5 separate regions of the Homo sapiens genome follow, and all the other regions are linked to region 3. The links come from fine-mapping of genetic effects on gene expression. A gene starts in region 3. Each other region holds a variant in brackets. All regions are shown on one strand. Distances are between the middles of the regions.

Region 1 (5,103 bases), 170 kb before region 3:
TAAACTCTATAAACTTAGTAAAAAAAGACAATATTCTTTCTCAGCTAATCTAGAGATAATGCATTTTTCCTAATATTTTTATTAACTAGTTTCCTAATTTAGAAAATTTCTTTTTTGTAGAGATGGGGCCTTGCTGTGTTGCCCAGGCTGGTCTTGACCTCCTGGCCTAAAGTGATCCTCCTGCCTCGGCCTCCCTAAGTGCTGGATTAAAGGTGTGAGCCACTGCTCCTAGCCTCTAATTTTTTAAACTATGTGAATTTAATATTTGTATTTTGCATAATATGAACAGCATTCACAATCCTCATTACATTTTGCATCATTTGACTCATACAATTACATATATTTCAAGGAGCTGTTTTTCTCCAAAGTATACACCTAGAATCCTTATCAGAATTTGAGAGGGCCAGGCATGGTGGCTCACGCTTGTAATCCCAGCACTTTGGGAAGCCGAGGTGGGTGGATCACGAGGTCAGGAGATCAAGACCAGCCTGGCCAACATAGTGAAACCCTATCTCTACTAAAAATACAAAAAAGTAGTCAGGCGTGGTGGCTGGTGCCTGTAATTCCAGCTACTTAGAAGACTGAGGCAGGAGAATTACTTGAACCCAGGAGGCGGAGTTTGCAGTGAGCCGAGATCACGCCACTGCGCTCCAGCCTGGGTGACAGGGCAAGACTCTGTCTCAAAAAAAAAAAAAAAAAATTAAGAGGAAATATTCAAATAGTAACAATATATCTATATAAAAGCAGAAAATGCAAAAAAGAAAGCAAATATTACTAATAAACAGTATATCTGATTGACATACTTTGTGCATACCACCACCATTATTTCATAGGCTAGCTATGATATGCAACCATGAGAGATACTATGTGTCAACTCCCTGACCTAAGCAATCACCCAAACCACAGGGGCAAGAAGCCTGGAAACAACGCTTCCCAGACTCTCTGGCTGGCAGGCTTCAGGTTAGATTCTACTCTCGCTTGTTTGGGGGATGCAGAAGAGAAGGAGAAGCCAGTGTTTGAGAGGCAGGACAGGCCAGCTCGCAGCAGCAGCAGCTGCTCCTGTGGGGTTCTGCATGGCGTTCGGGCATCTCCTTGAGAATCTCCCACTTTGATGCTGCTGGAAGCGGACACCATTCATGGCCACTTCCCCGGGATCTCTGAACTTCCAGATTTCAAAGTGGCCTTTCTGCCCTTTCTTCCCGCTGCTCTTGTGAGGTCATGAATGCCTCTAGTTCCCTGTATTGAACCTCTCTTCCTTCTCTAAATACCTAGAGTGGCTTCTGTTTTTCTGACCAAACCCTAATACAATAACATGCACATACAGTAACAAGATCATTGATCACCCTCAGGTTCAGGGAAGACACAGTATCTTGAAGTAGGCATTTGAGTATGTGGGCTTCCAAAGGCTGAAGACAAAGCAAAGCAGATCTTGCCTAACTACCAAGGCTAAAACCACATTCCTGTGCACCCCGATTTCTGTCCTGTCAGAGAAAGCCCACAGGTCTTCATCTGACCGTGACAAACTTCAGTGAGGCTTTTTTGTTGTTGTTGTTTTGTTTTTACCAGGATGAAATCAGCATAGTGAGGTAATAATACTGCTGGCCTGTGGGTACTGGGGCTCATGCAACATGAGAAAAACAACCATTACCAAGGCATCAAGTTGGTAGGTCGAGTCCTTCCACATGTGAAGGTGCAGTAAGTAGGGCTGGGAGTAAATGAACAATAAAATGCATCCTTTATGGTGCAAAGGACAGGAACGCCCTGCATCAAGGAATGGGGAAACAGGGCAAGGAAGACAGCTCAGAGCCAATGAAAAGAAAACCTACTAAGCACACAGTGTTGTGCTGGTCCAGCGGTTCTCTCCATGTTTTTGGTCTTGAGGCCCCTTAAAAATTATTGATGGCCCCAGACTTCTGTTTATGGATCATTATCATTTTATAAATTGAAGCTGAGAATATTTTAAAAAGAAGAATACACAGCACACATCCCAACAGCTGTCAGAGCCAGTAGCCTTTGGAAACCATGAGGGTGAGAAAATGAGAGTAAAAAGACAAATAACATCTTGGTATTTTCATGAAAACAGTGTTGACCTCAAAGCTACCCTGAAAGGGTCTTGCGGACTCCTGGACCACACTTTGAGAGCCACCGTGCTAGGCTGTTGATTCTAGTCTAGCTCATTTCATTCTCTTAACACTGAAATGTGTGTGATTACTATACCCATTTGACAGGGGAAGAAACTAAAGATCAGAAAGGCCTAAGTAACTTGCCCTAAGTAATCTTGCAGACCAGGATTTAACCCTGCTCTCTCTGCCTCCAGAGCCTCCGTTGGAACAGAGGACTTGACCATGGGAGGGCCAGGCCCAGGAGGGATTAGCTGGAGAGTCCCCAGGCGGTCACAAGGGTCCCCGCAGTGGGAGGAAGGAACCGTCGCCTCGGGAGCTGACTGGCCATGAGAAACTGCAGTACCCAGGCTTACCCCCACTGCGAAATGGGCCCGCATCCTTGACATTATGGTCTGGGAGAGGGAGGCAGCCTGGAATGGAGACCTGTC[C/T]GCCAGCGCGAGCTTTGCCATCTGCTGATGTTGAGCGCTTGGCCAGGCACCCCTAAGGGGTTGGGCTAGCGAGTGTCTTAGAGCAAAACACCATGGGGACTCCCCGCCAGCCCTGAGCTCTCAGTCCTGTATCCGGACTAGAATCTCAGGGTTGTCTCGTCAGCTGAGGGTGGGAGATGGGGCTGCATAGCCTGAGAGGGAAAACAGCTCTATTCTCACTAGCCCACATGGGCAAAGATCAGCCCAGAGAATCTGGGGCCTTTTCCAGGACCATAATAGGTGATTTCGCTCCAAAGCCTGCCAGTGGGATTATCAGTTTAAATCCACCGAGAGTAAGTTTTGTATTAGAATAGCATTCCATAGCTACTGCTGGCCTTCCACTGGGGAGCTCTGTTTCCAATCTCAAAGATGTCAAACAATTTTAAAGGCACAGAAGCTCAGTTTTACCCAGCCGGGCAGGCAATGGCAGAAGGCATGTGACTGCCAGCATTCCCACAGCAAATGCACAATGCAGCTTCACAACAGCCCCTACCCCAACCCTGACCCCAGACTCTGGTCTCTATTCTGCTTCCAGCTCCAAGACGGGCTGGAGGAACAGCTGGTCCAGAAACCTGGGGTGCCCATAACTACCCACTCAGACCTTCTGTGGGGTGCATGACTGTCCACGTCCTCAGGGAGGCCTGCATTTGCTTATTTAGACACCTAGCTCCTGGGCACACTCTCTGGAATCATAGGCCACTGCCAGGTCCCCCATGCCCATGGCCACGGCATTTCCTGCCAGCCTGGCATACTCCTCATGCCACCTCCCAGGCAGGGATGGCCACCCTCTATGAGCAAAAATAACACTAACAATAGCTCGCATTGTGAAGTTCTTCCCACTGCACACTTCTCATACCCTGTCTTGCTGGAGCTTAACAAAAACTTTACAGGGTTTGCAAGTGATAGCCCATTGTCCTTCTTCTTTATAGATGAGGAAGCTGAGGCTTGGTGCATGAAACGGGGTGTCTAAGGTCACTCCATGGGAGAGCTGGCACTAGGTCCCAGGTCTCCGTCTCAGCCCAGGGTTCCCTCTGCTGTCTGGCATTTTTGGGGTGAGGTGCAGAGCAGAAATGGTGCAGGGCACTGAGGCTAGAAGTGTAGTGAGCCCAGGGCCCCTCTCTTGCCTTTGTCTCATCACTGGTGGCCACCAGCCATGAGTCCTCGAGGGATCATTCTCTGAGCTTAGAAACACACAAATCAGGAGTTTCAATCAGCTAAGCAATGTTTCATTTTAATTTTCTTTTCTAAATTTAAATTTAATTAAATATTAAATTTAAACTTAAATGGAGAGATTTAAATTTAATACTCAAATCTCTCTCTCCCTATGCCTCCTGTTCCTGGTTTCTGGAGTAAAGAGCCTGCCTTTGGCCATCTCAGGAGCATTGGTGGGTGAAGCTCATCTTTGGGATCCTTCTTGGGATGTGGCCGTGGCCTCTCAGCAGGTTATTTAGCAACACGACTGGATGAAAGAAACCCTCCAACTTTCCAGACATAATGTAATAGGCCCTGTGTCCTCCCTTCCTGGGCTTGGGTCATGATGAAAAAGAGGGCTAACCTCACTTTTGGGACCTAAGTGAGGTTAGCCCTTGTCTTGGTAAAGCCACTTCTGGGAAGCAGCAATTTGCCCAGACCAGTGGTAAATGTTGGGGTGGTCCTACCAGGCACAGGCCTGGATGACCTCCAGGGCTCCCCGCCCCCAATTCTGCAGTGGTAGGAGGCAAGCCTTAGCACTTAACAGGCTGTTGCTGGACAAATGGGGCCCAAAGCAGGGGGTGGAAAGGGTCAGGCAGCCAGAGGGAGCCACATGAGGCCTCAACAGTGGGATCCCAGCTTGATCCAGGTGCCATCACCTCTGGCTCTTTACCCAGAGGAGTGGTGTGCAGGGAAGGAATCTCATGCAGCCTGGCCGAAGACACTGGGCTCCACATTGAGTTGCTCTGTCAGGAAAGACCTGATACATGAGTGTCACGGAACAGTACAGAGGACCCTCCAACCAAAGTCATGATCTCGCCACTCAGGGTTGGCTGGCTGTCCCAGCAGTTACAGGATTCTGAAGTGGACTTGGGGTGGAGAAGCACTCACATGGGCGCTCAGAGATTCTTGCCTCTAGTAAAGAGGAACCTCACACGTCTATGTCCGGAGAGATTCCGCTAAGAGGCTGCTGGAGCCGCTCTCTCGGGCTGGACAGAGAGCTGGTGGGTGACTCCAACCTTCCTTTGGGGGCCAGCTCCTCCCATTGCCCTGCTAGGAAAAGTCCTCGGGAATCTAAGGAAAGGCACTGTACCAAGCAAATGGCTCAGCTTTGTGCTATGAAGGCCAACCTTCCCCTTGACATCAACTCCTCTCTTTAGACCTGTGTACTCAGCCCTCAAGCTCCCGTGGCAGTGTGAGAACAGCACGCTTTATCCTTCACTCTTGGCCGTTTGGGTGCTGGGGTTGGCAAAGGTGTAAACTGCTTCCTGCGTCACCATTTGTGAATCAGGGGCTGATGGCTCACAGGCCTAAGGTGATCA
Region 2 (5,103 bases), 27 kb after region 3:
TTAGCCCGAGAGGGCTGATATACCACCATACTCAAATAAATTTGGACAAACTCAGAAGATAGTGTCATTCTCACTCTACAGAGACTTCAAAGCATAGAGGAAATACTTTTTTTTAAAGAAAGCTGTGAATTAAAGTATTTTAGTCATAGTATGGTGGAATTTTAGAATCTGGACAATGTCTCTCCCTTGAGTTTATAAAGACTTCCATGATTTCATGCTTTTCTTTTCTTAAGGCTCCTTGGGCCTGCTTCTGACTATGATTCCTTCCTCATTCTTTTTTAAATTCAGAATAAGAGAAGTGTACCCTTCTCTGAGTAAATCCTGCTTCCTGATGTAGACAAAATGCCAAGTCTGAAAGTTCTGCTGAGCAGATGTTCATGTAATTCTGGAGGCACATCTGTGTTTTGGAAATCCTTCCAGAGACTTTCGCACTTTCTATAAGTACACTCTACAAGGGGAAGTGGGGCACTAATGGACTGGGAGGGCAGGTCAGGAGTAGCCCAAGGTATGCATGTGCAAGAGGAAAACTTGATAAACTCAAGTTTATCAAGAAATTGTTGATTTCTTGTTCAACTGTTGATTTGAACCAGGCTTCTGGTTCAAAGGGCCAGGCCATAGCTACAGCTGCTCTGGTGGGCCAAACCAAAAGCATCACTGAGTTTGGGCACTTGAAGTTTCAGACAGCTGGGAGTCTCCATAGAACCGGAAGGGAAAACACTTCCAAGGATATGAGCATGTCTTGTCCCTGCCTTTGGGCCACCCATGCACACCAGCTCCACAGCAGCTGAAGCAGAGCAGATCCAGAGGAGGCTGTCGGAGGGACCACTGTCCTTCCTGCTGAATTCATACTGACCCTCTGGATTCTCCAGATTTTCTCCAAAGTTCTTCCATTCTAGCCTGGCCAAACATTTGGGCTCAGCAAACTGAGACAAGCTCCCCACCCATGGCGACACTTCCTATGTCCATAGTGTGAATGTAGTAATGGGATATATGTCTTGGAACCCCCAAGCATATGTCACGTGCAAAACACCGTGGGAAGCAGTGGGGGTGTGGTAAAGAGATGGGCTGGAAAGGCTCTTTGTCCTCAATAAGCTGGGCATCTGATGGGGAGATAGAGGAGTGAAGCGAGTCCGAACTAATAGGCATGTGTATTTGGAGGCAACAAGGAAGAGAGAACCATTCTGACTGGGAGCTCCCTGGAGGAGGTAGCGGACGTTTGACTGGGGTTTGGCATATTCAAAAAATGTGGATGAGCAAAGAGGACAGAGCAGCAGATATTCCAAGCGAGAAAACATAACGAGCATAGCATCCTCCCATGTCCTACCATTTATAAGAGAATGTTAATGTGAGAACTGCTCAGTCTCCTGACAGACCCGGGGGCTGCAGGCACATTTTCCCTAGGGGTAGGTCTGTTAGCTTTTCAAGATCATGAAGTATTTTTAGGTCCAAGTTGTCACCAGCATTCAAAGCCACCGTGCATCCTCCAGCTGTTCCCAGTGCATACCGGGCTCTTGCTTGTCATAGCTTGGATGTCCCCTGGATCATCAGATACAGACTGACTCCTGCACTTGTTTTCCCCCGTAAGCAGATCACGTGTCAGTGTGTAAAATGTATATCACGCTGGTCTTCATGTAGGTGTTGCAAGTTTCGTTCATTTTATACACATCCATTAGCACCACACATGAATGCCATCCTCTTCAAGAAGTAAGCAGATAGGGCTGGGCGCGGTGGCTCATGCCTGTAATCCCAGCACTTCGGGAGGCTGAGGCGGGCGGATCATGAGGTCAGGAGATTGAGACCATTCTGGCTAACACGGTGAAACCCCATCTCTACTAAAAAAAATACAAAAAAAATTAGCCAGGCGTGGTGGCGGGCGCCTGTAGTCCCAGCTACTAGGGAGGCTGAGGCAGGAGATTGGCATGAACCCGGGAGGTGGAGCTTGCAGTGAGCTGAGATC[A/G]CGCCACTGCACTCCACGCTGGGGGACAGAGCGAGACTAAGTCTCAAAAAACAAAAAAAGCAAGCAGATAAATTCTAAATCAGTGTTGAGTGGTGACAAGTGCTTGTTCTTTTGCTGTTTGAATGGATAACACTATCAAAGCTAGACAGGAGTCAGAATGTGTACCCTGTATTGTGGTGACTGGGGGAAGGACAGAGACTTAATTCCAAATTTCAAAAAATTTCAGTGCAGCAAAAGCAGTAACCCCCAGTTGGTCCTACCTGAGGGGAAAGCCTGCCCTGTGAACGGAGAGGAAAGGGGTTCTGGAAGAGGTGGGCAGCACTGGGCAGGTTGATGTTTCACTTAAGTTCAACACTGAGCCCTAGCAAGGGGTGGATGTCACGCTGGGCTCGCCTCCAGCCAGGCCTGCATTCCCAAATCTATTGCCAGAAACCATGTATGGCTCAGCTCACAAAGTGGTTTAGTGAGGTATAAGAGGAACATTCACTCTTCTTCCTCCTCTTATCCTGTTGCTCCTCCTCCCCTCCTTTCCTCACCAAGAGAGAAATTCTGACACTTCCTAAGTCTACCAAGCTTTTTAGGGTCTACCCTTCCTGGATACAGGACAGGTGACTATGGGGTAAGAGTAAACTGCTCAGCAAGTGACCAGTTGCTGTCCTGCTTGAGGTCTCTTTGTGTTCTCTATTAACTGCCTCTCACCAAGTCTGCTAACCTGTCTTCCTTCTGCCTCTTTTCTGCTAACCTGCTTGCTGACCTGTACAGATCAACTCTACCAGCAACTTGAGCAAAATCGCCGCCTCACTAATGAACTAAAGCTGGCCCTGAATGAGGATTAAACTTAAGAGTGAAAAAACTTGGGCTGAATTCTAGGCGTGGAGCCCATGTGCAGAAAATCTAAGACTGTCCTACCTTCAACTAATAGAGTTGAAAACAGTTGCTTTCTGCAGAAATGCAAATGCAAGGAATTGGCTGAAAGGCTGGCCTTGCCTGCTTGTTTCTCTATATGGCTGGAATAATTACGTTCTCTTTAATCACAAAACAGCTTTTATGGTAGAATACTTATATCAATTCAGCACTGCTCCTTGAAATAGCAGGTCCTCTTGTTTGAACTGATAAATAATGAGGAGCCCCCCCAAAAAATGTTTTCTATTTCCTGACAGCCATGAGTCCTACTTTAAGTATGTATATATATATATATATGTGTGTGTGTGTGTGTGTGTATATATTCCTATCAGATACTCATATTCCTAACTTCTAAATATCTGGTATAGTGTTTGAAATATGATTAAATGTACCTATGCTTGGGCAAAATAGCTTTTGAAAACAGGAACTCATGCCAGAAGCCCCTGGTTGTCTGAAAGGTATGCTTTACTCAGTCTAATGGTGCTGTTGGAGTCTGGGGAGAATGTCATGCTAATAAATAGAACACTATAAAAATATTAAGAGAATGTCCTAATGAAGTGTGCATGAAACATGTTGACAATTTTTTATGAGCAACAGAAATAAATCATTTTAAAAGTTCTCAGAAAACCTATTTATGTCATCTTTGCTTTTGTGAGTTTGTGTTACCGCACAACTCCCAGACTTTTAACTGCCTGTACCTTGGAAATGTCTGCTGTTCGTAACTTCTTCAGTTTGTATAACAGTGCTGCAGCTGTATTTGGTTTTTACCTCTCCCTGTTCCCACGGCACACCGTCAGTGAACCTTCACCAAACCCCACGTGCATTTTATCCTCAGTGAATTGTTGGTGGAGGTGCACCTGACTGCTCTGTGAGAATCCGTGCCATGGCTCCTTTGGGTCAAAGATGCCCTCCCCTCCGTCTTAGGTTCTTGTCTAGAAATGAGTAATGTCTTACAAGCATGCCTAGTTCTAATCATCTCATCCTGTGTTTGTGATTGATGTTTGCCTGCCTAAATGTACAAACCACCATTGTGTCCAAAGCACAGCTATTCATGACTTAATTTTCTAATCTCACCACAGAGAAAGTGGCTCATGCCAAAGAAGAAAACCTTAGTATGCATCAGATGCTGGATCAGACTTTACTGGAGTTAAACAACATGTGAAAACCTCCTTAGCTGCGACCACATTCTTTCGTTTTGTTTTGTTTTGTTTTTAAACACCTGCTTACCCCTTAAATGCAATTTATTTACTTTTACCACTGTCACAGAAACATCCACAAGATACCAGCTAGGTCAGGGGGTGGGGAAAACACATACAAAAAGGCAAGCCCATGTCAGGGCGATCCTGGTTCAAATGTGCCATTTCCCGGGTTGATGCTGCCACACTTTGTAGAGAGTTTAGCAACACAGTGTGCTTAGTCAGCGTAGGAATCCTCACTAAAGCAGAAGAAGTTCCATTCAAAGTGCCAATGATAGAGTCAACAGGAAGGTTAATGTTGGAAACACAATCAGGTGTGGATTGGTGCTACTTTGAACAAAAGGTCCCCCTGTGGTCTTTTGTTCAACATTGTACAATGTAGAACTCTGTCCAACACTAATTTATTTTGTCTTGAGTTTTACTACAAGATGAGACTATGGATCCCGCATGCCTGAATTCACTAAAGCCAAGGGTCTGTAAGCCACGCTGCTCTTCCGAGACTTCCATTCCTTTCTGATTGGCACACGTGCAGCTCATGACAATCTGTAGGATAACAATCAGTGTGGATTTCCACTCTTTTCAGTCCTTCATGTTAAAGATTTAGACACCACATACAACTGGTAAAGGACGTTTTCTTGAGAGTTTTAACTATATGTAAACATTGTATAATGATATGGAATAAAATGCACATTGTAGGACATTTTCTAAATTTGGTGGTCCTGTCATTTGTATGTTCTTAATTTGTGAACTTTTGAACGTGTGACTGACCTGCCTTCCCCCACAAATAGGTTCTCAAAACAATATCCCACAGTCCAGGGGAAACTGGGTTTCATGTGTTACCTTCTCAGAAACACTAAAGGCAGCATTATTTTGGTCTGTTAAAGTTATAACCAAGCAGGAGAGACCCTTTCCAAATGTTGTTTTCAATGTTATTGGTGTATGCCTGCACATACATGTAGGACTTTGGCAGTGGCTTTACTGGTTTGGGGATTTTTCTTCCTGACATATTAGCTAAGCCTCTAGCAGTGGCATAGCCACACAAGAACA
Region 3 (5,103 bases):
CGACACTGCAATCCCTTTTTGTTTCAGCAGCCACGGCTAGTGATTCCCATTTTTCACGTTCCTTAATTCAAACTGCAATGAAAGAAGCTGAGTGGCCCAGTTCATCATTGCCTGACAAGCCACAACGCCAAGTCCCTGGTTAGTATTTAGATCCATCCTTGAGTTGTGGCCAATCAGCCAGAGAACAGGGATACACACTACATACAGCCTGTGACTGTCCAGCCTACCTCTGGAGAGGACCAGGAGACCTGTTCACTACAGAAGAATGTGTTATTTAAGTCATGACGTTTTGCTTGTCCTAGCTTTGTCTTAGCCCTTGGTGACAAAAAGGTCATGGGTGGTATAGCCCATGAAGCTGACTTGGGCCTGACACATGGCAGAATCTCAACATGGGTTAAAAGAAATGATTGAATTCAGGACCTGCTATGTTAACCCATCAGTCTAGAGATCAATGATGTGGTACTAAGGGATTTTAAAAGTTAGCGTTGTATAGCTCCATTTCCATACTTTGACACCATAGGCTTCGACCTCTGAATATAGGCCCTAGGTGAGGGAGTCTGGGAGAGGAAGAGGTGAAAAGAAGAGACATCGATGGCTTTAAACTACACAATAAGGTCTGAATGTCTGAATCTGGAATTCAAGGCCCTTTATCATACAGCCCCAAGCTTCCTTTCCAGTCTCATGCCCCCATTCACCCCCAAAATCCTACTGTCCAACCACCACCAAACATTCCTTTTTCTTTCCTTGGCGCATACAACGGCCCTCCTCTCTAGCTAACTGCTACCCTTCCTTTAAAATCAGTTTAAAAGCCATCACCTTTTCAGAGAATTTTTTCCCATCTGCTCTGACCTAGTCATTTCTATTTCTTCCTCGTGTGAATTCTTAACACCTTTCTCATGCCAAACACCTGGAGGACATAGACCTGTGCTACTCATTCTTTGGATTCCAGAGCCTAGTACCTGCCTAGTATATAGCAGGTACTCAACAACCGTGTGTTTAATAAATTGCTTGTAGCATGATTTCATTTAAGGAAACTTTAATGAGTCCCTCGGCTACATATGGCACAGTAAGAAAAGAAAAGTCAGTAACATGTGGTCCCGCAAGGAGTTTCTCTAGTTCAGTTGCCTCTTTTTATAAGTGAGAAAAAAGGCTTAGAGAGATTGTAACATGGCTAAGGTCACACTGCAAGGAAGTGACCAGGCCAGGTCTGGATCCCTGGAACTGACTCCTAACTCCCTATTCTTGCCTCCTCTGCTGAGCTCCAACCTGGGGAGTCAGCTCCCTGGAGTCCACGCATCTGGATATCGTCCACATGCCTGGAACTTTGTCACTGTTCCGGTGGCTGGGTTGACACACCGTGATTAAAGGGCTCTGGTCAATTTCTGTGCCACGCAGCCCCTATGCTAATGGTCAGATCTAATGTTCTGACCATTAGGTCAGTGTATCTTTTCCCTCCTGGGCAGTTAGGTTAGTGGAAGAAACCCGATAAAATCTTGGAGAGGAATTTGATCATTCTCTGAAGGACTTACAAGTTGTTTGGCCTGCCTAATCTGCTCAGATACCGTCCGGGGAATATTTGGTAACCATGCAGTACAGACTGTGAATTATTCTGTGGGGACTATTAACAAGACCCTCACCAACCCTGCCTCAGCTGATCTCAGGGCTTGGGGGCAGCCCCCTCTCCTCCCCTCCCACTGAAGCTCTGAAAAAAAGCAGCCTTTCCCCCTTGGGAGATGGGAGGAGTAGTTAAAAATAAGAAGTGTTGGGGGAAATCCTCCTCCTTCCAAGCACAGCTCACACGGCAGAGCCTCCTCAGAGTTGCGGCTGCGGATGCAATGACTTAGCCAGGTTAACGCCGATCCCATGTTTTCCGAAACCTGGCACCTAAGCATCTAACATGGAAGGCCGACTCCCTAAAATCAGTGCAAGAAAAATGATAACAAGTTATATCTGGAGGGACCTCGGGGATTATCTACCCGCTGGATTTAAAGTTGAGGAAGCCGCGGGCAGCAAACAAGGTCTCACAGTTGCTGGTGGCAGAGTAGAGACCACAGACCAAATTGCCTGAGTCTAAACTCAATGTTCTTTCCCCTTAGACTGCCACCCGCACACACACGCACACATGCACACCTTTTTGGAGGCACTGCACAGCAAGCACAGAAGTACGCCACTGAGTCCTGTGTCCCTAAAGTATTTGACTGTCCCTCCGCTGGGGGAAAGGGCAGGCAGAAAACAAGACTCCGTGTGCTGTCGCTGTGCCGCCCCCTGCCTCTCTGACCCGCGCCCGCAGAGAAAGTCTCAAGAGCCGCCCCAGGCTTTCTCCCACGTTCTCCCTTTCTCTGCTGCAGTTGAGTTTCCAGAGCGTGAGCGCGCAGGATGACACCTGGCTGGCTGAGAGCTGCCGGGGAGGCGCTGGCGGGTGCCGAGAGCGCACTGACCCTGACGCGGGGTGCAGCACGGCTGGGAAGCCCCCGGGCCTTTGGCTAAGCGCGCCGGGGGACGGCACAGGGGGGCGACGCGCATCCACCACCTGGTCCGCGCTCTCCCGGCCTCCGGCAGCTCAGGGCGGGCTCGGTTGGGGACCCTAATGGCTGGGTGCCGGCCCTGGGAGAAGGGCACGCGGAGGGCGGAGGGTTGCGCCTCGGCCCCGGCTCGGCCCCAACGCCCTCTCCCTGGCGCGCAGGTTTAGAAACAGGGCGGCCTCTCCGGCCGCCGCCTCGGCGGCTCGGGTCCCCATATATAGTCATATCCACCGTCAACTGGGAGGCCGGCGGCCGGCAGCGAATGGGCGAGCGGCCCCCGCGGGAGGAGCGGGGAGGGGGCACGGGGCGGAGGGAGGAGAGGAGGAAGGGGGGCAGGAGAAAAAAGCTTTTCCAAAAAAGTATTGGCTGTCTTGAGGAATGCGGTCGCCCCCTTGGGAAAGTACATATCTGGGAGAAGCAGGCGGCTCCGCGCTCGCACTCCCGCTCCTCCGCCCGACCGCGCGCTCGCCCCGCCGCTCCTGCTGCAGCCCCAGGGCCCCTCGCCGCCGCCACCATGGACGCCATCAAGAAGAAGATGCAGATGCTGAAGCTCGACAAGGAGAACGCCTTGGATCGAGCTGAGCAGGCGGAGGCCGACAAGAAGGCGGCGGAAGACAGGAGCAAGCAGGTCTGCGCCTCCCCGGCCCTGCGCCCGCGCCCAGAGCGCCGGGACTCGAGCCTGGCACCCCCGGCTGGATCCCCACCCCGAGGACTCGGGGAGCCACCACCCTACCCCCACCACCACCCAGGGCGGCCAGGGCGCGCGTCTGGAAAGAAGGAAGGGAAACGCAAGAGCCAGGCTTAGTCTAACTTAGTCTGGTCTGAGGACGCTTATTTCCCTTCTCTGGTTCCCATGGCCCGCGAAATCAAGTCCTAGAGGCGCTTTATTCTCAGGACTGGGAATCAGTTTGGGGGAGGGAGGAGGACACCCGGTTCCTGGGGACGTTTGAAGGAAGGGCGAGGGATGGAGAAAGGGGGTCGAGTAACTCAAGTGTTAGAAGTTCGTTGACTTTTGACTGGGGAGAAAGGAACCTTAAACTTGGGGAGGAGAAGGGAGTCCTGGAGTTGTTACCTAAGAACAAAGATGGGGCGGAATGGAGGCTACAGCCCGAAAGCCAGGCCAGCAGTGGCGTTCTTCTGTGTCCCCAAGTAGTGGACTTGAGCCCGCTGAGACCTCGGCAGGAGTCTCGTCCCAGGGCAGGTGGGTGTGCGGGGTGAGCCGCGGAGCGGTTCCAGCTCGGGTAAAGAGGAAGTTACCTCGGGTCCTTTGCACTCCAACTCGGCGGCGCCCCGAGCCCGAGGGGCCCCAGCCAACCCGACGCCCGTGTGTTGTGTGTGTCTAACACCCGGTCCGTGCCGGCCGCCCGCGCCCGCCCGCCGCTGCCCCCAGCTCGAGGAGGACATCGCGGCCAAGGAGAAGTTGCTGCGGGTGTCGGAGGACGAGCGGGACCGGGTGCTGGAGGAGCTGCACAAGGCGGAGGACAGCCTCCTGGCCGCCGAAGAGGCCGCCGCCAAGGTACCCGGGGCGCGCGGCACGGCGTGGCGCACGAATGGCTAACTCTTTCTCTTTCTCTCTCTCCCTCCCTGTCTTTCCCTCTGTCTCTCCCGCTGTCCCTGTCCTTCTGGTTCTGTGCACCCACACCCCTCCCCTTCGGGATCACGCTGCCTGCTGCACCCCCCTCCCTCCCTGTACCCCCTGGCCAACTCCCAGCTGGAAGATGAGCTGGTGTCACTGCAAAAGAAACTCAAGGGCACCGAAGATGAACTGGACAAATACTCTGAGGCTCTCAAAGATGCCCAGGAGAAGCTGGAGCTGGCAGAGAAAAAGGCCACCGATGTAAGTGCACGCTCACACTGCTTCCCTCACCTCTTGCCTGCGTGGCCACTCCGGGGTCACCACAGGGCTGGAGAGCAATGAAGGAAGTTTACCTTTTCCTGCTGGACACCTGCACACAGCCCTGCCATGGCCCAGAGCATTGGATGCCGCCTCTGACTGCTACTGCACACATTCATTTATATTTCATCCACTCCTCTCTTCTTCTCCTTTCCTTTACCTCCCTGGGGGTGGAGGTGGGTGGATGAGAGGCTGGGAGAATAGAGCAGCTGAAATTGGACTCTGGAGGTGAACTTCACCTCCCTGGTGGCAGAAAACCCTTGAGGTGTCATCACCAAGGTTTGTGTAGAGAATGCCAGGTTTTCTTCACTTTCTTTCCTTTTGCCGTTTCCAGTGGGTGGGAAGTTCTGGGTTTGGTGGTGGGTCTAGTCAGGGTTCAGAGAACCTGGCCTCTAAATGAAAGAAATGACACAGCGGTACCTTTACTTAGATGGCTGCACTTCATGGTGGGGCACAGAGACACTTTGAGGCTTCCTTTCTCATTAGTGTAAGCCTTAATCCACCCCTTAAGATCTGCCTGGGAAGATGATACTTGCTTGGGTCTGCAGTCTGAAGGCACTAGATCCAGAAAGTAAGCTGTGAGTTATATATAGCTCAGTGCTTTATATGGTATAGTGAGCTAGCTGCCCCCTGCCCCTCCTGCTGGCCCCGCCCCCACCTGTCAGCCTTCTGACAACCACCACATAG
Region 4 (5,103 bases), 92 kb before region 3:
TTAATGCTGGGAGGCTCTCTGCTCTCTTCCTTCTGCTTCTGCCCCTCTTCCTGGGTCATCTCAGCAACTACCATGGCTTCCAATATCATCTGCCTCTCATGGACTCCCCAGTTTATATAAACAACACAGACCACTTTTCTGGGTGCCTGACTCATAGATCCAAACACCTATGAGATGGTTCCAACACACTCTTCAAATTTCACATGCCCATGCCGAATTCATCATCTCTCCTCCAGCCTTGCAGCCTCATCTTCCGTGTTCTCTAGGTCACCCAGGCACCCATCCAGGGACTCATCCCAGCCTCCTGTCTCATCCTTAACCCCTGGGTTATTCTGCTATTAAGTCCTACTTCCTAAACAGTTTTCGATCCTGGCCCCCTCCCCCTCTATCCTCACTGCCACTGTAATATAGTCTGAATATTTGTCCCCACCTACATCTCATGTTGAAATGTGATTTCCAGTATTGGAGGTGGGACCTGATGGGAGGTGATTGTATCGTGGGGATGGTTTAGCACCATCCTCTTGGTACTGTCCTTGTGATAATTGAGTGAGTCCTCACAAGATCTGGTCACTTAAAAGTGTGTGGCACCTCCCCGCCACACCATGCTCTCTTTCTTGCTTCCATTCTCGCCGTGTGGTGGGCCTGCTCCCTCTTTGCCTTCTGCCATGCTTAGAAGCTTCCTGAGGCCCCCCTAGAAACATATGCTGCTGTGCCTCCTGTACAGCCTGCAGAACCATGAACCAATTAAACCCCTTTTCTTATAAATTACCTAGTCTCAGGTATTTCTCTAGGCAGCCTAGTACACACTGCCTCCACTCAGGTTGTTATCGTCCCTCTCCCAAGTTCTGCTACACGCTGACCAACTTGCCAGCACCACTATCCTCCAAGCAGCAACTCTGCCATCCGGGCTGAAGGAGGCTCTGCCATCTTGTAGCTACTGGCACTGGAACACACGGTCTCCTTGGTTGCTGCAAGGAAAGTGAATGCTGGAATATTTTGCACCAACGAAGGACACAAACCACTGGAAGAACTAACCACATGTCTCCATCTAACTGCAAGGGGTGAGGGGTGTAGGGAAGGGTGAACCTCCTATGTCACAGTCTGGAGGGAGGGAACAACTGAACATGGGTGAATACCAGAAACCTCTACCAATCATTCTCCTCTGCTGCTTTATCTCCTCTAGCCCTTATCATCTGATGTACCGTGCATTTGTTTGTTTACATACTTCTGTCCTACTTCCCCCAACCTATAGAGAATCTAAGCTTTCTGAGGGCAGATAATTCATTTTGTTTATTGCATTGCTGTATTTCTACAGCAATTGTAGTATTCTGCAACAGGGTCTGGCACTTAGTAATCACTCAAATATTTGATGAGTGCCTTATTAATAAAATGAAAAAATGAATGGTCTGGGCTGTATGTGTTTACTGGGACAAAGGTAGGGCCAATGTTGAAGGAGGAGCCTGGAGAGTAAGAAGGGGTCATATCACAAAAGGCATTATGAGCCAATATAAAGGTGATTTCATTTTATCCTATAGAGGACAGACGGCCGGGCACAGTGGCTCACACCTGTAATCCCAGCACTTTCGGAGGCCGATGCAGGTGAATCACTTGAGCCCGGGAGTTCAAGACCAGCCTGGGCAACATGGCAAAACCTTGTCTCTACAAAAAATTAGCCGAGTGTGATGGCCACCTGTAGTCCCAGCTACTTGGGGGACAGGTGGGTGGATAGCTTGAGCCTGGGAGATCAAGGCTGCAGTGAGCCGTGTTTGCACCACTGCACTGCAGCCTGGGGGACAGAGTGAGACCCTGTCTCAAAAAGAAAACTTTAAAACTGCAGAGAACCACTGGAGGGATCTTAAAAGGGAAGTGACATGTTCTAGAAGATCACTTAGGAGGCAGGTTGGAGGGAACCCGCTGAAAGCTGGGAGGCCAGCAGGAAGACAACCGCTGCTGGTTTAGAGCTGGATGGTGGAATTTGTGAAGCAGGAGCAACAAGACTTGCTGAGAGATTAAATATGGGGTTTGTGAGGGGTCAAGATGACTTTAAAGGGTTTGGCGTGGGTTACTAGAAGGCTAGGAAGATGGAGTTCCATTTACTCCTCCCCAGGTAAGAAGGACTGAGGGATGGAGAAGACCTGGGGGAAGTCCTGTAATGAGGAATTGTTTGGGACACGTGAGCTTTGACATGGCTAATCACATGCCCAGACCTTGCTAAATTGCATGCAGCTCCCTATATAGATGTTTTTCCTCATCACTGGAATTTTGCACTGTCCCCTGACCCTGGAATAGCATTCTCTCTCTCTCTCTGTTAACTACTCCTAGCTCTGACCTCAGAAAACAAATCAGAAAGAAAAGAAGCACAAGAAGATGGGGCATACCTTCCAGTTCCCACCTCCCCTGACGGCACCGAACTGTACCTGCCCTCACCCCCAGGTGGATGTAGAGGCCTCCAGGGCTGGAGGAGAGGAGTCAGCTGGGTTCCTTGCAGGCCAGGAGCAATGGATAGATGGCTGCTTGGATGGTGGACAGCCTCCAGGCAGGGCCAAGGTAGGTACCCTGTTCAAAGGCAGTCATTGCAGCCAACTCTTGTTAGCATATTACTTGTGAAATGCTTCTCTGCCTCACATGGCTTCTGCCTCTCTGCCTTCCCTGGGTTCTTGTCCCCAGCCGTGGCCTAATATGAGTGCTCCTGCCAATCTTGTTTTTATCCTGGCCCAGTTCCTCACGCCTGATATCCCTTCTGTACACCAGCCTTTTCCAGCGTAGGATAGGATTGAAAGTGATACCTCCTGTGCCATCACT[C/T]AACATGAGACAGAAGCCCAGCAGTCCTGCTGCCATGTCCTTCTGCATGAGGGAAGAATGCCAGCTAATTTAATCCAGTCCCTGGGAAATCTTCTCTGGCCCCATCGGAAATAACGTGCTGGGAAACAGTCCAAGGCCACTGTCCAGCTACAGCCTGACTCCAGCAGTGTGGGTAGGGATGTAGGTAGGTGCATAGTTAGCTGCTCTCCTGCTCCCAACTGCTGCACTGGGAGGTGATTGAGTGTCACCTCATGCATTAACCATGCATGGGAGAGAGCTGTGGGAGCTTCATTACCAACCCGCCCTCCTGTAGCCCTCATCCCTCCATCACAGGCCATCTGGATTGACACCTTGATTGATTATCAAGGGCTCCATTGCGTCTGCTGCAGCGTCACCTGACAGAACGGGGAGGGGCTGTGTTGTACCTTACCTGTCAGTCTCTGCTAGGTGTCCCCTCTTGTGGTGCATGGGCACACCACGCTGGCATATTCAGTGGAGCCCTCATTTTATGGCCAGATGTCTCCTGCTAGAATAGCATCTGCCAACCCACAAACCCACTCCAAATCCTATAGAAGGGGTTTTGGCAAAAAGAGTTCAAATTCAGCAGTTTTGATAAACCCCCAGAGAAAGGCATCCCTGGGCTGTTTCTAAGGATGGTAAATACCCACATCAATTGGTAAATTATAAAACTCAGCCACAAAATAAAGGGCTGATGGTTTGCAGAGAAATTGGCACAGTTGGGAAAGAAACAATACTGCCAATGATACAGCATCCTCTTTCCAAGCATTGGTGGTAAAGAAGAAATGACAAGCTGCTGCATCCAAAGCCTTTGAAGGGAGAAGAAAAGAATTTTCCATCTTGATTTTTGGCATAGAGGGCGGTAGCCTTAAGTTTAGCAGGACAGGAGGAAGAGGAGGGAGGCTAATATTTGTAGAGTTCGTGTTTTGTGTACAGAACCTCATCAAATCTTTGCCACAGCCTCACGAAGCAGGTATTTCTGCACTCATTTGTCAGGTGAGGTAGTAAGCTCAGAGAGGTGACGTAATTTGCCCACAGCCTCACAGCTTGCATATGGCAAACCCAAGCTGTCTAATTCTGAAATCTGACCTCTCTCTACTGTTATTACATGTCCACCCTGCCCCAGGCACATTTCAGGAAAGTCGGAAACCCAAGCCTTGTTTGAAAGGATCTTAACATATTTAAACAAAATCAGAACAAGAAACTTGAGAGCAAGTGTCATTGAATAAAATTAGTTTGAATGATCCGTACTGATCTACACTTATTTAAGGGCCCCATGGGGCGTTTTATACATTCAAGTATACTTGTATATACTTGAACAGAGTTTCTTGAACAAAGATCTGCTATGCAGATGAGGAAAACCAAATTCCAAAGAGATGCTCACAAGTGGTAAGGGAAAGAACTAGACTTGTTTTTACTACGTAGATGCGTTTGTGTTCTGGTAGCATGCAAAGTCCCTCTTCGACATGTGAATATTAGTTATCAAAATGCGCGTTCTTATAAAAGAAACAGTCAGATGGCTCTGCCCTAGTGGTCGTTGTTCCTAGTTCACATTCATCAGTCACAGAAGCTGGCATACTGTACAATCCTGAGGAACTAGTTATATACAATTATGCTTGTTTCAGAATAGTGGGGGGGTGGGGGGAAATTGGAAGAACAATGTCACATTTGGGGAATTAAATGCCCATATAATCCATTACTTTTATTAAAAATATTTCTGAGCATTTATCATTCTTAGTTTTAAATAATATGGATTCTACACCACCTGCTAGAATCTGGGCTGGATGCTTTTTATACACATTGATTTAATCTTTACAACAATAGCACAGAATAAATCATGTAATTCCTAGTGCTACAGGAAACTGAGGCCCAGCAAGTATAAGTAACTTGCCTCAAATTGCACAACTGGAAAGTTCCAGGGCCATCACTTGAACCATATCCGTTGATGTTGGACTAACGGAATACATATTAGCACCTCATGAAGCCGGTTGACTTGCCTTGGGTGAATTGTAACGTCAATGAACTGCCTCATGTCTATCACAGGACAATTACACCTAGTCAATGAAATGTGTTGGAGCTTTATGAGGATTAAACGTGAGCCCATGTGGAATCATATGTGAATACTGAAGTTACACACAGCCCAGGACTCCTGAGCATGTGCCTGAAGAGACATGCAAGGACGCTCATTGGAGCATTGTTTTGTAACCGCGAAAAATTTGAAGCAACCAAAATGTCCATCAGCAGGAGAATGAAGAAAGAAATCATGATGGCTGGGCACGGTGG
Region 5 (5,103 bases), 250 kb before region 3:
TGATAGACGCTGGAAAAATAAAAGCCATAGCTTCTAGCTCTTGTAGATTCTTGAAAATAACACTGACCCATGCTTAAAGTTTTGGTTAGGTTTGAGTTGCCTACCTGGGCTGGAAGGCAGATTATTTATGGCAGCTGTATCGATCAGACCAAAATGAAATTTGATGTGAAACAGGGCCGGAGGAATGCAAACTTCGGGGAGGTGGAAGTGGAATTTGTTACACCTTAAAGGAGACAGCTGGCAGCTAATCCACAGCGGAGCCCACTTGGCCTCTCTTAGGCAAAGTACCTTTTATAATCACACAACCCAGGAGTTATTAAAAGAATGTGTGCCTGCTGAGCTTTTAGCTCTAAAAATGTACCTTTTAAAGGAAACCTCAAACCTGGCCTGATAGGAAGTCTGGGCTTGGTATGGTCGCTGTCCCCATGGGATACAGCTGGGGAAGGGGGTGTTCTAGTTGGTAAACATACCAATTTTGCAAGAATCTGAACACTTCAAAATATGCTTAATACGGAAACCACATTTTGAACCTCTAATTACCCTCTAGAGCTATTTTGAAGAATAAATGAAATTAAACACATTACCTGCTTAGAAGAGGCCTTGACACACAATAGGGGCTCAGTAAATGCTTGTTGAATGAATAACAGAATTATCCCACAAAGTTCCTCTAATTAACATTCTTACCAGGTGGCTGGAGGAGCAGATAAGCTATAAACCAGGAAAGATATGTATCAAGGAGGGTATCACGCTAGGACCTCAAGATACAGCCTTGCTAGGTAGAGACTGGGCATTTTACAGTCTCTCAAAAGGGAAGCAAAATCAACCAAATTCCATACTTCACCAAACACAGACTCCTAATAGGAGTGGAATTTTCCTAGCCAGGCTCCCATAGGACATAGGAGAAATTTTCCACGTAGGGAAGGCCTCGATGGCAGAGTCCATCACGCTTCTCCTTCCCCATCCTGGGCTTGCCTCTGCAGATCGGATTCCAGATTCGCACTCGTGTGCAGGACCTGGGCCACGGCTGTATCTTCCTGGTGCAGAAGGCAGGGGCCCTCCAGGTCTGCCCCACAGACAGCTACACCAAGAGGGAGCTGATCGAATGCGCCCGTGCCGTCACGGAAAAGGTAAGGAGCAGCCCTCAGTTTAGAGTCACAAGAACCTGCGCTGGCTCTCAGTGATCCGCTGTAATCAAGGACAAAAGCAGGAAACTCAGCCAAAACTAACCCAGCTGACTCAGCTGTCTCATCCCGATCTTCCCCACTGCCCAGGTTCTCCCAAAAATGGGGTGCATCAGGGAGCTGGGGTGATCATAGGCCCAGAGAATTTGAGGGCTTAGAGGGACTATCCCATGAAGGTCAGGCCCTGGCACTCCCCCTTCTTGCAGGGCTTCCCCGTAGGCAGATTGTATCAAAGTCCCCATCAGCAGCCAGGAGCCCCTGGTCAGGGGAGGCCTGGAGCCAGAGCCCTTTCCTGCAACCTCTGTTGACACCATCTTTCTTCTCAAGGAGGCTGCTGAGGGCTGAGGGCTGAGTCAGGAGGAGTGAAAATCCCTTTGGTGTAACCTCTAATTTACAGATGAGACAGTGAAGTGGGGGTGGGTTAGGCCACATGGGGCAGTGGCGTGTGCCTTTGTGGAGAAGCAGAAACTTGTCCTCGGTTTTCTGATTCTAAAGACAGTTGTTTGTAGAGAGATTCCCATGGGGTAGTGAAGAAGGCTCTAAGATCTTAGCTAAGGTACTTCAGCTTTCCACAACTTGATTTCCTCATCTGTAAAATGAGGATAAAAATATATAATATCTGACTGATAGAACTGCAAAGATTTACTGTGCTGATATGTGTAAAAGTGCCTGGTACAGTGCCAGACACACAGTTACACATGTAATAAATCTAGCTACTGTTTTCTCTAACTTTCCTCCAAACTTCTTTTTCCCCAGGCAGTTTTCCCCAGTTAACCACGCCATACTCTGAATGTTTCTTCATTCCCAAGTAGCTCTTCTATTCTCCCCCAGTATGCGAGTCTTTTGCTTTGCTTTTTGTCTCGGAATCATTTTTCAGGTCAGCTGTTTTGCAGGCTGCTTGAGGTACAGGATAAAGCATCCAGGCTTGGTGGCTTTTCCCCTTCCCTTAACTCTGGTTCATAGGACACAGAGCTCTGTCCTGTTTAGAAACTTGGCAACAGACTTGAGGGGCGGGCAGGGGGGACCCTCAACTGGAAGCTGCTGCCACAGAGGCTGCTCTGTCCGTGGCCCTCCCTGAGGCCAAGCTACAGTCTGGCCTTCTCCCATAGCCCACAGGGCTGTCCAGCCTCCTGGGACTCCACAGACGAGGAAATAAATCTCTCAGCTGGAGGAAGGCATTTGCCTTCCTTTCAAAGCCCTTTCTTGTTATTGAAGTTATTCTTGCCAAGTTCCCCCATAAAAGGCCTTATAGCGGGAGCACCAGGAAGGGAGGAGAGGGGTCCGAGCTACATAGTGTTTGTAGGCATGGCCAAGCAGCTTGGTCTTCCTGAGCTGGCCTCGGCCGCTACCTGTCCCGGCTTTGGGTCCCTGATTTAGGACACCTGGAGGGACCACCAAAGGAGAGGAGGTGGCTCGTTCCTAGCAACTGGCCTTTTGACTGTTTCTTGCTGTGCGTCCCTGTCCTCTATGCCTTGTGTCTCGTTATATGCCTTGATGGTGTGTATAGTGTACCCACACACAGCCATGACTTGTCTGCCTTTGTGTCCTCAGACCCTAGTGACTAGCAGATACTCAGTAAACACCTGCTGGCTGGCACACCCTTCACAGAGGGTGGGATGCTATTTCTGGACTCTTTTTCTTTCACCTTGGCTAAGAATGTCTCTCTCCCAGACACATATACAACCCTGCAGGCTTCCCGTGATACTTGTCTTGGCCTTTGTCA[C/T]CCATCCTCTGAGGGGCTTTCCAGAACCTGGATACCTCATTTCCCGGCCAGCTCTATGCCAGTCTGACTTGTCTTTTCCTGGCAGGACCTAGTAGCATTTGAAAGAAAGGCAGATGAGGAAGAGAAACAATTCCTTGTGGGCTGGTCTTGGAACGTGGTAGGTACCCAGGAAATGGTCCCTGTGCCTCTCCTGCCAGACTGTGTCCACAGCCTCTGCTGAGATCTCAGCAGCACGGGGGACAGAGTGTCTCATACTCCATGCCTCTTGCTGGCACGGTAACACAGTGACTCCCCTGCCCTGGTCAGCATGTTTGAAGAAATCTACCTACGAAACGTTGTCAGATTCTTCTTTGGGTCGTAGTCAAGGGTAGTGGGTGTGTGCACGCAGAGGTTAATACAAAGACTCAAAGAGCCTCCAGCCACTAGCCTGACACATGCGATTTACATTGGGTGCATTGGGCCATCCTGAGGGCAAGAACGGTGTGCTGTGGCGTCCCGGGAGGCAGGGCTGTCTCTGGAAGAGGAGAGCAGGGGGAGGTGTCCGGGGCTCAGCTGTTTTGCAGGCTGCTTGAGGCACAGGATGATACATCCGTGCTTGGTGGCTTTTCCTTCTTCCTTCACTTTGGCATCTGACGGGGCAACTAGTTCGGTGGCTGCGGGAGAGGGGCAGGAGTCGTTGCAGGCAGAGCGCAGACCCAGGGTGGAGAGGTGGGAGTGTTTGGGAAAGTCAGGAGCTGGCGGGTGTGGTGAGAGCCAGGTGAAGCGGACACATGACCAGAAACGGAGCTCAGCCAGGGGAGATTTGTAAGCAGGGTGTTAGTGTGGTCAGGTTTATGTCATAGGAAAGTACCTCGGAGCAGTGAGGGTGTACGTGATGGGTGAGGGTGACAGCACAGGATTTCTGACATGGAAGACACCCGAGTGAACTTGCTGGGCCCTCGGGGCACTGAAATGATGGTTCGGGGGTGGATGATGGCTTGCAGGAGTGTTAGAAGTGGAGAGGTCACATACACAGATCCCCTCTAGACTCCAGCCCTTCTGAACTCCATTCTGGAGAATTTCCATCCCAGCAAAGGTGTGATGAGTGTTAGCAGTGGCCTGTTCCTACTGAAAACCTAATAAAAGGGGATGTAATCGCCACACCTTTCACAGGAGTCTAATCCTTTCTCCCGTTCTGTGGTTTCAGAAACATAGCAGTAATTGAATAAATAGCATCTGCCCTCTGCTGAGTACTTACTATGTGCCAAATGCCTTGCTAGACACTTTACAGATATTTTTCTTCCTACTTAATTCTCTCAACAACCCTAATAGGCCAGAAATAGTGGCCCCATTTTACAGATGAGGAAACTGAGGTTTGGAGAGGTAAAGCAGCTTTGCCTAAGGTCACAGGGCCTGTAAATGGCAAAGCTGGTATCCAGACTGAGGCCGTTGACTCCAGATGTGTGTTGTTAACCTCTAAGCTACATCAACTCCTAGGAGAGAATTCATTATTTTCAGAATCTGCTTTTAGGTCCTGTTCTCTCCATTTCTTAGCTCCCCTCACATTCCCTTTCTGCCTACAGGTCTCCTTGGTGCTCTCGGCTCTCCAGGCCGGGAACAAAGGAACCCAGGCATGCATTACAGCCGCCACCGCTGTGTCTGGGATCATTGCCGACCTGGACACCACCATTATGTTTGCAACAGCGGGGACGCTGAATGCAGAGAACAGTGAGACCTTCGCAGACCACAGGTACGTGGGGGTCCTGGACGGGGAGAGGTTCAGGCTGGCCTGCCCCTGAAACTCATGATCGACTTGGAGACGCCACCTGGGAGCCAGAAATGTAGTTATCTGTTTTGATTTCAACAAGATGCACAAGTTGGGAAAGTGAACCATGTAATCAGAATAAGCCCCCTTTGCCAACTGTAAACACAGTGTCGTGGTTCGAGCTTTGCCTTTGACAGCCTTAAATCCAGCCTGCTACAGCAAAGGACAGATTTTAGACCTGCCACACGCTGAGCCAGAGAGCCGTTCCTCAAACTGCTGGCCAACCCCAGCAGGATTGGGAATGGCAGGGGCAGGCATATTTCGCTTAAACCCTGTTTTGGGAAGATAGGGGCTCAAAGCCCCTATCTCTGCTCAGCTTGCACTCAGCCTCTCTATCTGCTGCTAGGGACCCCTGAAACCTCACCACATGTCCTATACCTTTCTTCCCCTCTGCA

The links.
Region 1: its variant is fine-mapped to the expression of TPM1 in cerebellar hemisphere (GTEx, PIP 0.98).
Region 2: its variant is fine-mapped to the expression of TPM1 in whole blood (INTERVAL, PIP above 0.99).
Region 4: its variant is fine-mapped to the expression of TPM1 in cerebellum (GTEx, PIP 0.97). The same link has a PIP of 0.9 or more in cerebellar hemisphere.
Region 5: its variant is fine-mapped to the expression of TPM1 in nucleus accumbens (GTEx, PIP 0.99).

The regions. Positions count from the first base shown.
Region 1 is chr15:62,872,513-62,877,615 of GRCh38, forward strand. All of the region lies in intron 1 of LOC105370854 (a long non-coding RNA gene), which reads right to left. Among named protein-coding and RNA genes, the nearest start is that of MIR190A, 51 kb to the left of the region's middle. RefSeq lists an enhancer at 2,864-3,702. The variant C/T (reference allele first, on the strand shown) is at 2,552.
Region 2 is chr15:63,067,151-63,072,253 of GRCh38, forward strand. It overlaps a transcript of TPM1 not described here. Among named protein-coding and RNA genes, the nearest start is that of TPM1-AS, 20 kb to the left of the region's middle. The variant A/G (reference allele first, on the strand shown) is at 1,958.
Region 3 is chr15:63,039,794-63,044,896 of GRCh38, forward strand. It overlaps TPM1 (tropomyosin 1), which reads left to right and starts at 2,954. Exons shown (of 10, transcript NM_001018005.2): 1 at 2,954-3,150; 2 at 4,234-4,359. The coding sequence starts at 3,037. RefSeq lists enhancers at 1,898-2,812, 3,726-4,639.
Region 4 is chr15:62,947,830-62,952,932 of GRCh38, forward strand. No RefSeq gene overlaps it. Among named protein-coding and RNA genes, the nearest start is that of TPM1, 92 kb to the right of the region's middle. The variant C/T (reference allele first, on the strand shown) is at 2,803.
Region 5 is chr15:62,791,661-62,796,763 of GRCh38, forward strand. It overlaps TLN2 (talin 2), which reads left to right. Exons shown (of 59, transcript NM_015059.3): 46 at 981-1,127; 47 at 4,467-4,633. Among named protein-coding and RNA genes, the nearest start is that of MIR190A, 30 kb to the right of the region's middle. RefSeq lists an enhancer at 4,598-5,098. The variant C/T (reference allele first, on the strand shown) is at 2,905.